Regions from separate parts of the Homo sapiens genome. Here regions 1 and 3 are each reported to be linked to region 2. The links are microRNA targets in miRTarBase. Many come from high-throughput screens and were not tested one by one. Region 2 holds a microRNA gene; each other region holds the end of a gene's coding sequence.
The links. The annotated mature microRNA hsa-miR-2276-3p reads UCUGCAAGUGUCAGAGGCGAGG and lies in region 2 at 2,363-2,384, opposite strand. An mRNA with a match to its seed (bases 2 to 7 or 8) in the 3' UTR can be bound and repressed. Matches are read on the target gene's strand: a 7mer-m8 pairs with bases 2 to 8, a 7mer-A1 pairs with bases 2 to 7 and ends in A, and an 8mer does both.

Region 1 (3,297 bases), not on the chromosome of region 2:
CCATGGCCAGTGCTTCATGTGCCTGACCCGCAGAGCTGGCAGCTGAGCAGTGTGGCTCTGGGGTGCAGCCCGGGTTGGAGCTCAGCCCTCGCCTGGCTCTTCTTGCAGGCCCTGGGCATGTTCAGCGCAGCCTTGGCCTCGGGGCAGCTGGGCCCCCTCATGTGCCAGTTCGGTCTGCCTGCAGAGGCTGTGGAGGCCGCCAACAAGGGCGGTAAGTGGCTGCGCCTGCACCTCCAGGCCAGAGCCAGGGGCAGGGTCCATTCCTGTCCCCCTGGATCTGCAGAAGTGGGGCTGAGGGGGTAAAGGTCACAGCCCTTCTGCCCTTGATCCCATCGCTTTGATCCCCAGTTCTGGGCAAGGGTTAGACACCACCTTGTGTCTTTAACGTGTTCTAGATGTGGAAGCGTTTGCCAAAGCCATGCAGAACAACGCCAAGCCCGAGCAGAAAGAGGGCGACACGAAGGACAAGAAGGACGAAGAGGAGGACATGAGCCTGGACTGAGCCACGCGCCGTCCTCCGAGGAACTGGGCGCTTGCAGTGCGTTGCACACCCTCACCTCCCACCCACTGATTATTAATAAAGTCTTTTCTTTTACCTGCCAATGCTTAGTTTCTTTGCCCAAAGGGAGTTTCGGCTGGACAGGTGCTAGCGTGGGGAGCTGCTGTAGGGTCCCAGAGACAGTTAGTTATTTGACCTAACAACGGAAAACGGTCACCCCAGGAAGAGTTTGGTGCCTCTGTCCAGGCCGGTTCCAGATCTGTCTTGAGACTCACTCTCTCCGTATTTAAGTCAACATTCATTCGGTTACACAGAAGTTACTTTTTAATTTTTAAGGAGGAACCAGTGATGATTGGTGACAAATCTCTCACAATTAAAAATGGGTGGAAGGGCCAAATATAAAAACATTTTGCAGTATTTTATTCTTTCGTTTAAGAAGCTATAACTTAAACCATCTTCAGAAACAAGATCTGTCACCCGTAGAGCTTAGAGTCCAAATAGACACCTATGAGGCGAGCACAAGGGGCGGTGTGAGGCAGCTGCAGGGGCCTGACCAGGGGCCGGGGTTGGCTGTGTCCTAGGCGGCTGGGCAGCCACTGGCCCCCACTGCCCCGTGGACCTCCACAGAGCGAGTCATGGCGACGGGGGACCGGTTCACCGCCAGCCTCCTCATGCAGCCGCAGTAGGCGGGGGGCCAGGGCTGCACGGCCATGGGCTCTGGGGGCACAGGGAAGATGGAAGAAGGCTGGTTGGTGGGCAGCTAGAGACCCACAGGCCCTTCCCAAACGTCAGTGCCCCACCCAGCCCCTGTCTCATTCCACATCATAGGAGGGTGGTAGGGGGGTGGGAGGAGGGTGGGAGGGGGCAGGGGGTGGAGGGGTGGGGGGAGGGTGGTAGGTTACGCAGCACCTAGTCCTGAGGGGCAGCTCCCCCACCCTTGATCAAGGCCGCACTCACCAGGCAGGCCCCCGAGGTACAGAGGGGCTGGGGCACCAGCTGCAGCCGCCAGCAAGGGGCCCACGGTGTGGTTGCTCTGCGCGTCCACCTCCAGCCGGAGCACATTCCCGCTTTTCATCACTGGGAGAAAGGGGGACTCCTGAGGCCAGGTGGTCCTCAGCCCAGCCTCTCTCCAGCCCCAAAAGAAGCCACCCCACCCAGAGTCCCGCCTGGCTCCCGCTCTGCAGAAGGGTGGGGGTGGCAGAGTGCCCTGGCCACAGGAGGGGCCTCACCCGCTAGCCGGTGCCACTGGCCATCACACAGCACTGAGGGGCGGGTCACTGACGTGGAGAACTCCCCTGCTCCGTCATCCGCCCGCAGCAGGACCTGGCGGGGTAGGAAGGGAGGGTCAGGCTATGCCCCCGAGGTCACCAGAATGGGGAGGCAAACCCTGCCCTGGCACGCCACCTCTGCCAGGCTTACTTGCTTCTCGGTCACCTGCAACTGCAAGTAGGGGGGCGTCCGGGCCTGGCCCAAGTGGAAGATCAGTCCGGTGACTGCCAGGGGCCGCACCTCCAGTTCCAGGCCCACATCAGGCAGTGTAGCTCCTGGGAGGTCTGCGGGGAGGGGTTGTGATGGAGAAGAAAGGGGGGGCCCCTCCCCAGAACCTCCTGGAGCCCCCTGCCCTGCCCTGCTGAGGCCTGGGATGCCAGCACCCACAGACCTAAAGTGATAACTCCCCCGCTGCCTGGGAAGAACAGGCCCGCCTCCAGGGGGCCCAAGATGCAGGGTGTGACCCCTGCCATCCGTGTGGGGGCCCCCAGGGGCCTCCCGTGCAGCCTCAGTCTCTTCACACAGCCGCTGAACCCGACGGTCACCTATAGGAGCAGACCGGGCAGGGATCAGGGCCCAGGGCAGCTGAAAGGGAACAGTGGGTGGGGAGTGGGGGCTGGGGCAAGATGGTTCTCACCGGAAGTTTGGAGCTGTGGCTGCTGGCCGGGAGGCCGCCCACAAAGAGGGTGTGGGGCTGGGGGTGCTCTGCCCCCTGGTGCTGCCGGTGCGGCCCCTCCTGGCTCCAGGCCCGGGCCCCGTCCGTCACCAGCAGGATCCGGTTCTTCTCCCAGCGCACGGAGACCTGGGGGCAGGAGATGGGTCAGGGTAGGGCTGCCAGGCCCTGCCCACCACCTTCCTTCTTCTCGGCCCTCACCTTGTGCCAGCGGCCAGGCCGGGAGCGCTGGCGGCTCTGGGCGCGGAGCCGAGTCCCGAGGCCTTCCATCTGTGCAACGAAGTGGCCATTGCTCAGGAAGAGCGCCAGGGAGGGGCTGCCGGGCCTCAGACGGGCAGTGAAGAGGAGGAGGCCTCGGGAGCTTCGCGGGAGGACGTGCATGGAGAGACTGGGCCTGGAAGCGGAGCTGGCGTCAGCCTGCGCGGCCCCTCTCAGCCCACCCCAGCCGGGCCTGGCCTTACCAGTTCCTATGTCGGGCCAGGATGCCCACAAACTCCAGGTGACTGGACAGGGAACCCCCAAACTGGTAGGAGTCTCGGGTGGTCCTGAGGTGTGGGGGCAGCATGCAGGCAGGATGCCGGGCGGGCTGACGGCTGCGGCGGGAGGCCTGGGGGCGTGGATGGTGAATGCAGGGGCCGCCCACACAGGGGCCACCCTTCCAGCCACCCCAGCTCTGCCTGCTCACCCCTGGGGTGCCCACCTTCCGGGCGGTGGCCTGCAGTCCTCTAGGCCCCAGGCCCGGGGTCTGGGCTTGCAGGGCGGGTGCACAGCCCGTGCTCACATTGACGCTGCCCAGGTTCTGCTGCAGATCAAATACGCGCTGTGGGCCCAGGAGCCTGTGCAGGGCGGGCAGGCG
Region 2 (3,346 bases):
TCTCTCCTCTCCAGCTTCACCTTCAGCTCAGCACACAGGAGCTATCGATGTTGTGAAAGGTTCTGTGGTGCCGTTTCTGCCTCAGGGAGTTACAGGTTAGAGGGAAGACAGACACACCGAGGGATGCAGGTGGATCTCCTAAGCCAGGCAGCCCGGGGTCCAGTCTCAGTCTTGCCACTTACTATGGGGCTCTGGCCACGACAGCTTCCCTGAACCTCCATCTCATTTAGGGAGCAATGAAACTTGACTTGCTCCTCAGTTATAACCATCCTCACCTAAACCACAGAACACAGAGGATACCTCACGCAAATGCTTCCTCCCTTCTCCCCAGGATGGTACCTGATCACCCATCTCATCCTAGGAGGGAGTGATGAAGCCATCACATAGGATGCCTGCCTCAGGGCATCAGGGTTTCATTCTGTCAAGACAGGCTGGTATGGAGGAGGTGAGCATCACAATTCAACAATACCCTGCAGGTTCCCTGGGGAGCCAAAAGAGGCATTAAACATGGAGGGAGCAGAGGCAGGAGCAAGGGGGCTCAGTGGGAGTCCAGAGAAGGATGTGGGTACAGCAGAGGCCAACAGAAAAACAGCAACCTACTCTATGCTCCCCCTTTACTGCTCTTTCATTTGTGATGCAAAGATGAGGAAAATCAGGTAAGCACTTTGTACCAATGCATTTCTCTCCACAAATGTAAAATACAATTAAACATTCCAGGTACTGATTTTCAAATTGCCATGTATTATATAGTTTCCCTCAAGAAAACCATGTACATTTGGTGTTCATTCCTGGTGTTTTAGAAATAACAATGATAGTTCTTTCTAAAACATTTGAATTTATACCACTGTGATGTTATGATCCCATTTATGCTATTACATGTCTCATAGGCAAACATTTCTTAAATGTTTAGTTTTCAGACAAAAAAGAAAGGAAAGCACTGATGAGTTCCCCTTCTAAGTGAAACCTTCCAATGCCTCTTAGCTCAAGGGAAAGGAAGGGGAAAGAAACTTTGTTGCTTCCAGCAGCAAACAGAGAGGTCAACCTACCAAGCTATAGGGCCAGGCATTGAGCCCTGAACCAGAGAAGCCTTAGAGCCAACTTTGTCCTGCTGCTTTCCCTTGAATATGCCATTTTATTTCCCTGGACCACGGTTTCCTCATCTGTAGAATATAAAGTCCCTTTCAGCTATCAAGGTGCATGCTCTGCTTCAGTATCTGTAAAGTAGAAATACTACTTGCCTCCAACTCTTAGGAAGATAAAGACTAAAAAAGAAATGTTTGGACAAGGCTTTAAGATTACATAATGAAATGGATATAAATAAGACTCATACAGTCACACAGCTAACAGAGACCATAAAGATCTGTCCAGCTAAAGTGAAACGGAACTCTCAATGCACGGGAGGAGACAGCTGGCAGTAGTCTTCTTTTTTAATTTAACTTAATTTTTTTAGAGACAGAGTCTCTCGTTCTGTCACCCAGGCTGCAGTGTAGTGGCAAAATCATAGCTCACTGCAGTCTCAACCTCCCAGGCTCAAGAGATCCTCTCACCTCAGCCTCCTGAGCACCTTGGACTACAGGTGAGTGCGCCATCACAACCAGCTGATTTCTTATTTTTATTTTTTAGAGATGGGGTCTTGCTATGCTGCCTAAGCTGGTCTTGAACTCCTGGGCTCAAGCAATCCTCCTACCTCGGCCTCCCAAAGTGCTGGGATTACAGGCATGAGCCACTGTGCCCAGCCAGGTCATTTTTATGCCACTTTCTTCAGGGCTTCCTGTGGCTAAGAGGGAAAGTAGACTGATAGCATGGATGAGGTGACAGCCCAGGCACTGGCCCCAGGCTTTCTGAGGGACAGCCGGCATTAGGTTTTTCTCCATGCACTGTCCTACAGGTATAGAATTCATGTCCTCCACTGGTGTACATTGCAGACTAAATAAAACATGTCATATAACAACCTCCTTTCCAAAGCTAAACTCCAGGCATGCCTGAGTTCAAGAGGTCACCCAGCAGGGAAGCTCCACTGTCTGGTGAGAAGAGGGCCTCCACTGCTAGGCAGTGGCAAGAAGCCATGCCGGTTACCTCCTCTGAGCCTTCCTTTTCTCATCTGTCAAATGGGGACAGTAGTAGATCCTACATTATAGGGATGTGTGGAGGATTTTAAATGAGTACTGATGCACGTTAAGCCCTCAGAACAGTGCTTGGCACACACCCAGAGTTTGGTAGATGCTACCTAACATCAATATTGACATTAATTCTAGAACTATGTAGAGGATACGACTTCAATAAGAAAACAATCAGTCAGAAGCAGTGGCAGAAGGGAGGGTCCTGAAATCCAGAGTCCTCCTGCAGAGATGCAGCTGCCACTCCTCGCCTCTGACACTTGCAGACATTCGGAGAGAAAGCCGTCTGCAAGGTGACAGAGGGCGGACTGGAAGAACACAAGGAACCCAGGGATGCTGATGGAGCATGGAAAACCGCAGCAGAAGGCACTGAGGCAAGGTGTGCCCTCCAGGCGGGGCAGGCTGTGGCTGGGCAGAGCGCCTGCCAGGGAGAAGTAGGGCAAAGGGAAGAAAGCACCTGTGGGAGAAACATGGGGAAACAAGGAAGAAACCTGCATATGCACGGGAGCACAAATAAGGAAGGAGATGGGAGAACTGGGTGGAGGCAGATGGCAAACGTGGGGGCCAAGGGAGGTAGATGAGAATTAGGATATGGGATAATAAGACAAAGCCACATGAAACTCTAAAGTGCGGGAGGAGGGCAGAGAACAGGGAGGGTGCATGACAGGCACCCCGAGAATAATGCAGTGAGGAAGTTTGCAAGACGGGGGAGGGGGACATTAGGAAAAAAGGAGAATTTGTTGGGAAAGGTGGAAAAAGAAAAGGAGTGAGATTTCTCCGCCTGTTAGCAAGGGGAATAAAGGAGAGCAAATCGCTGGGTGACCAGGAAAGGTTCACAGAGAAGAAAACACGAGGCAGCAAAAACCGAAGGTGGGGACAGAGAAAATGCTGGCAGGGGGAGGTGCATAATATAAGGCTATGGGAAGCCATGGGAACAAGAGCTGAATAAATTCACAGTATTATTCTATTTATCCACATCCCTATGCAATGCTGGGAAGCAAATGACCCACAGGGTTTTGTTTGCTTGCTTTGGTTTGGTTTTCCTGCACTTGGAGGGAGGGGAAATTTGCTCAAGCTCTGTAACCTTGCAGTCAGATGGGTGGCCCAGCCCAAGTCACCCGAGCTCCCCCTGACGCTGGCAGCAGCGCGGGCTTCTACCTGCCTGGGGCTGGAGTACCAATTCCCCCACCTCCTGCACAGAATGGGACCAAACCAACTCCGCCAATGCA
Region 3 (3,000 bases), not on the chromosome of region 2:
TATAATTAGAGCTAAGGTCGGGGCGGTGATGTAGAGGGTAATGGTTGATGATATAATTATCAAGACTCAATAATCAAATAATTTTAATCATGAATTAAAATCATGAATTAAAATCATGAACTTATTAGCCTAGCATTTGAGAGCTTTTTCTTAAAAAAATTAAAAATCTCATTATTCACAATCACCCTCCTAATTAACCTTATTCTATATGACATATACTCTAATATTATTGGCCCTGTGGAGCTTGGGCACCTTCTAATGCACTGTGGAAGCATTCTACTTGGATTATACCTGTATATCAACAGTTGTTCTCATACCTGTATATTCAACATGGACTCTCTAACAGAAACAGGTCCTTTTGTTTTGTACATTGCAGTGTAATAAATTGCCCCTGTACTCTTGAATCTTGATGAAAAGAGACTAACTTCCTCCCTGCCTTCCATGCTGGGTAGGTAAGTAGTTTCCCACAATGAATTAGACCCAATATCCTCCATGAAAGTAATAATAGTGGACATTCCTGCTCATGAAGACACATGTCTAGGGGCTTAAAACTTGAAGTGTAGATGTGAAGGTGTGTGTAAACATCACAGACAGATCCAGAAAGAAAGGAAGATGTTTATTGCTTTCCATACCTTGTGGAAGGACTAGATATCTCGCTGTCTTTTTGACCTCCTGTTTCCTTTATAGAACGCAAGGCATTTATGCATTTTGGACAATTCATTTAAATGCACATATTCAAGATAAGAACAGTATGTCTCCCTTTCTTTGCATATTTATGACACATTTTATTTGCACAAATAATACTGCATCAGTTTCATTGAGAAAAGTTGGAATTTTGTTATCAAAATCATTGGATGGGAAACTGCATTTTCAGAACCCACTTCTTTTCCTCTTTCACTAACGGTATTCCTTACAACTTGTAAACATTCATGAAGAACTCTATCATTGTGATCCATTTTTAAACCAATGCACCCACTTGGAGTTATAATTTCCCCATAAAAACTTTCCATGCTGATCACTTTTTTTCCTTTAATACGCTTTGAGCATCAGGGCACACTGCTCCATCCATCGCAGGCGCTGCGGGTGGAGTTTCTATCTCAGTGCACAGCATGAAAGCTTGGGTCCATCTGTGCCACACAAAACCAAGCCTCTCTTGAAGTGATTTGTTTACAGTGTCATTTGATGGAGTGGAATGTTCTGCAACTCATTCGAACTGTTACAGAAGCTTTGCTAAAAGGTCACCACTGCTCTCTAGAATTTCCAAATCTGGGCACCCTCTGGGAGCTTGTTAAAGATAAGGTTCTCCATGGGCTTTTTCCATACAAACTAGATCAGATTAACAAGAGGCTACTTTTCCATAGAGGTTTGTGTTCATGTTGAGAAGGAGAGCAAGAAAGAGAGAACACAAGTAAATTACAGTTAGTTACCTCAAAGTGTGCAAGCCCACTTTCTCCCAATTCAGAGGGCATGTAACAAGTGATAGTACAATTTAATAGGCCTAAACAAGTGTGTTGGTCTTGAAAAAGTCAGAATTTGCTTTTAAATGTCCTTCTTGAATCAATGCATTCTTCAAATATAGTCTTGGGAGTCGATTCTAAAGGACACTGAATTTCACCATTTACTCAAAATTCAATAGGAAAATGACAACTAATTCCTTAAGGTAATAGAGGCTGTGCAGGGTAAGCATTCACCGTGCACTGCACCAACAAGGTTCAAATTGTTGTAACTACCATTTTAGTCTAGACCTAAAAGTGTCTTGTGCTTGCTTTCTGCCCCTTTTCTTATGAAACAAACATCTTGAATTTTCCAAACCTCAAAAGCTCAGCTGTAAAACTGTAGGAGACCAGCAAGAGGAAAAGGAAAATTTCCTTCAAAGACGTCTCTAGTCGCAGTTGATCAGTTCTGCTTTCCCCCTCGAAACATTAACTATGTCTTTTGACACTTGTCTGTGAAAAACGTCCAAATGTGACAAATGGTAGAAACAACATTTCTTTACCCTCCTGCCTGGAACTTCCCATGATACAGATGAGATCTAGCTGATGCTTTTATGAGTGGAACAAGGAAGGTGGCTACTGTCCACCACACTCACTTACATCTGCAGATGGAATAAGTAAACACATAGTGAACTTACTGAATAAAAATTTTAAATTCTCTCATTTGCATTTGGTTGGAATCCCTGAAAGGGTCTGCACAGTAGCAGCTAAAACACAGGCTTATTGCCATTAAAAATATTCTCAGAAGTGTGTGTGTGTGTGTGTGTGTATTTCTAGTAGAATACTTGGAAGAAGAGAGACTTAAATCTGGAATCATGTTTTTGTCTCTGCAGTCCAAGCTGGAGACATTAAAAACAACAACGTCTCCCTCAGTTCAATCAAGCTGGTCTGGGAACCAAAATTGTCCTGAGGAAGGGGGAGAAATCCATTTATATTCCTTGTGAGGCAAGGAGGGAGGTCTTTCTCGCAAAGTCTTTATGTGTCATTCAGGACCAGGAAACTTAATCTTCGAGTTCAAAGCTCGTCTCATCATAGAGCTCAGGACGTGCTGACTTCTTGTGCCGGGAATATTTCAGTTGCAAGAGATCACCCATTTCATCAAGAGCTTCTAAAACCTGCAATGAGATTGCTTTCCAATAGCTATCATTGAACACCTAAGTAGCCCTGCTTTGCAGAGCCCAGATTAATAGCAAGCCTCACAAAGACACACAGTCTTAGTTTGCTAGCTTCTTTGATTTTAAAGAAAAGAAGCAAGATCCGTACCATTAGGTTGTGGTTTAAGACCCTAGAGGAATGTTAGATGCTAATTAATTTTATTTAGTGGTCTAACTCCATACTATGAATGTTTATTTTATTTTGAGAGTGTGAAGAGAAGAATAAAAACATGTGACCCATGCTTACCCTTAAAAGGTTTTATTTTAAAATGTAGTGACTTATATGTAGTCTTGTGGAAGAAAAAGATAAGGTTGCAGAATGCATTTGAAGTTATATCTTCATGACACAGCAA

Region 1: miRTarBase lists ADRM1 as a target of hsa-miR-2276-3p. Seed matches in the 3' UTR shown: 7mer-m8 at 533-539.
Region 3: the mRNA of SPTLC3 is a reported target of hsa-miR-2276-3p. Seed matches in the 3' UTR shown: 7mer-A1 at 1,197-1,203.

The regions. Positions count from the first base shown.
Region 1 is chr20:62,308,260-62,311,556 of GRCh38, forward strand. ADRM1 (ADRM1 26S proteasome ubiquitin receptor) reads left to right here. Exons shown (of 10, transcript NM_007002.4): 9 at 109-211; 10 at 396-603. The coding sequence ends at 502. LAMA5 (laminin subunit alpha 5) reads right to left here. Exons shown (of 80, transcript NM_005560.6): 72 at 3,142-3,277; 73 at 2,903-3,048; 74 at 2,643-2,835; 75 at 2,406-2,570; 76 at 2,160-2,313; 77 at 1,919-2,052; 78 at 1,729-1,822; 79 at 1,457-1,576; 80 at 806-1,216. The coding sequence ends at 1,077. Among named protein-coding and RNA genes, the nearest start is that of ADRM1, 6.9 kb to the left of the region's middle.
Region 2 is chr13:24,161,507-24,164,852 of GRCh38, reverse strand. MIR2276 (microRNA 2276) reads right to left here and starts at 2,437; the gene lies at 2,349-2,437. All of the region lies in intron 1 of SPATA13 (spermatogenesis associated 13), which reads right to left.
Region 3 is chr20:13,164,362-13,167,361 of GRCh38, reverse strand. It overlaps SPTLC3 (serine palmitoyltransferase long chain base subunit 3), which reads right to left. Exons shown (of 12, transcript NM_018327.4): 12 at 1-2,608. The coding sequence ends at 2,495. It also overlaps a transcript of TASP1 not described here. Among named protein-coding and RNA genes, the nearest start is that of ISM1, 55 kb to the left of the region's middle.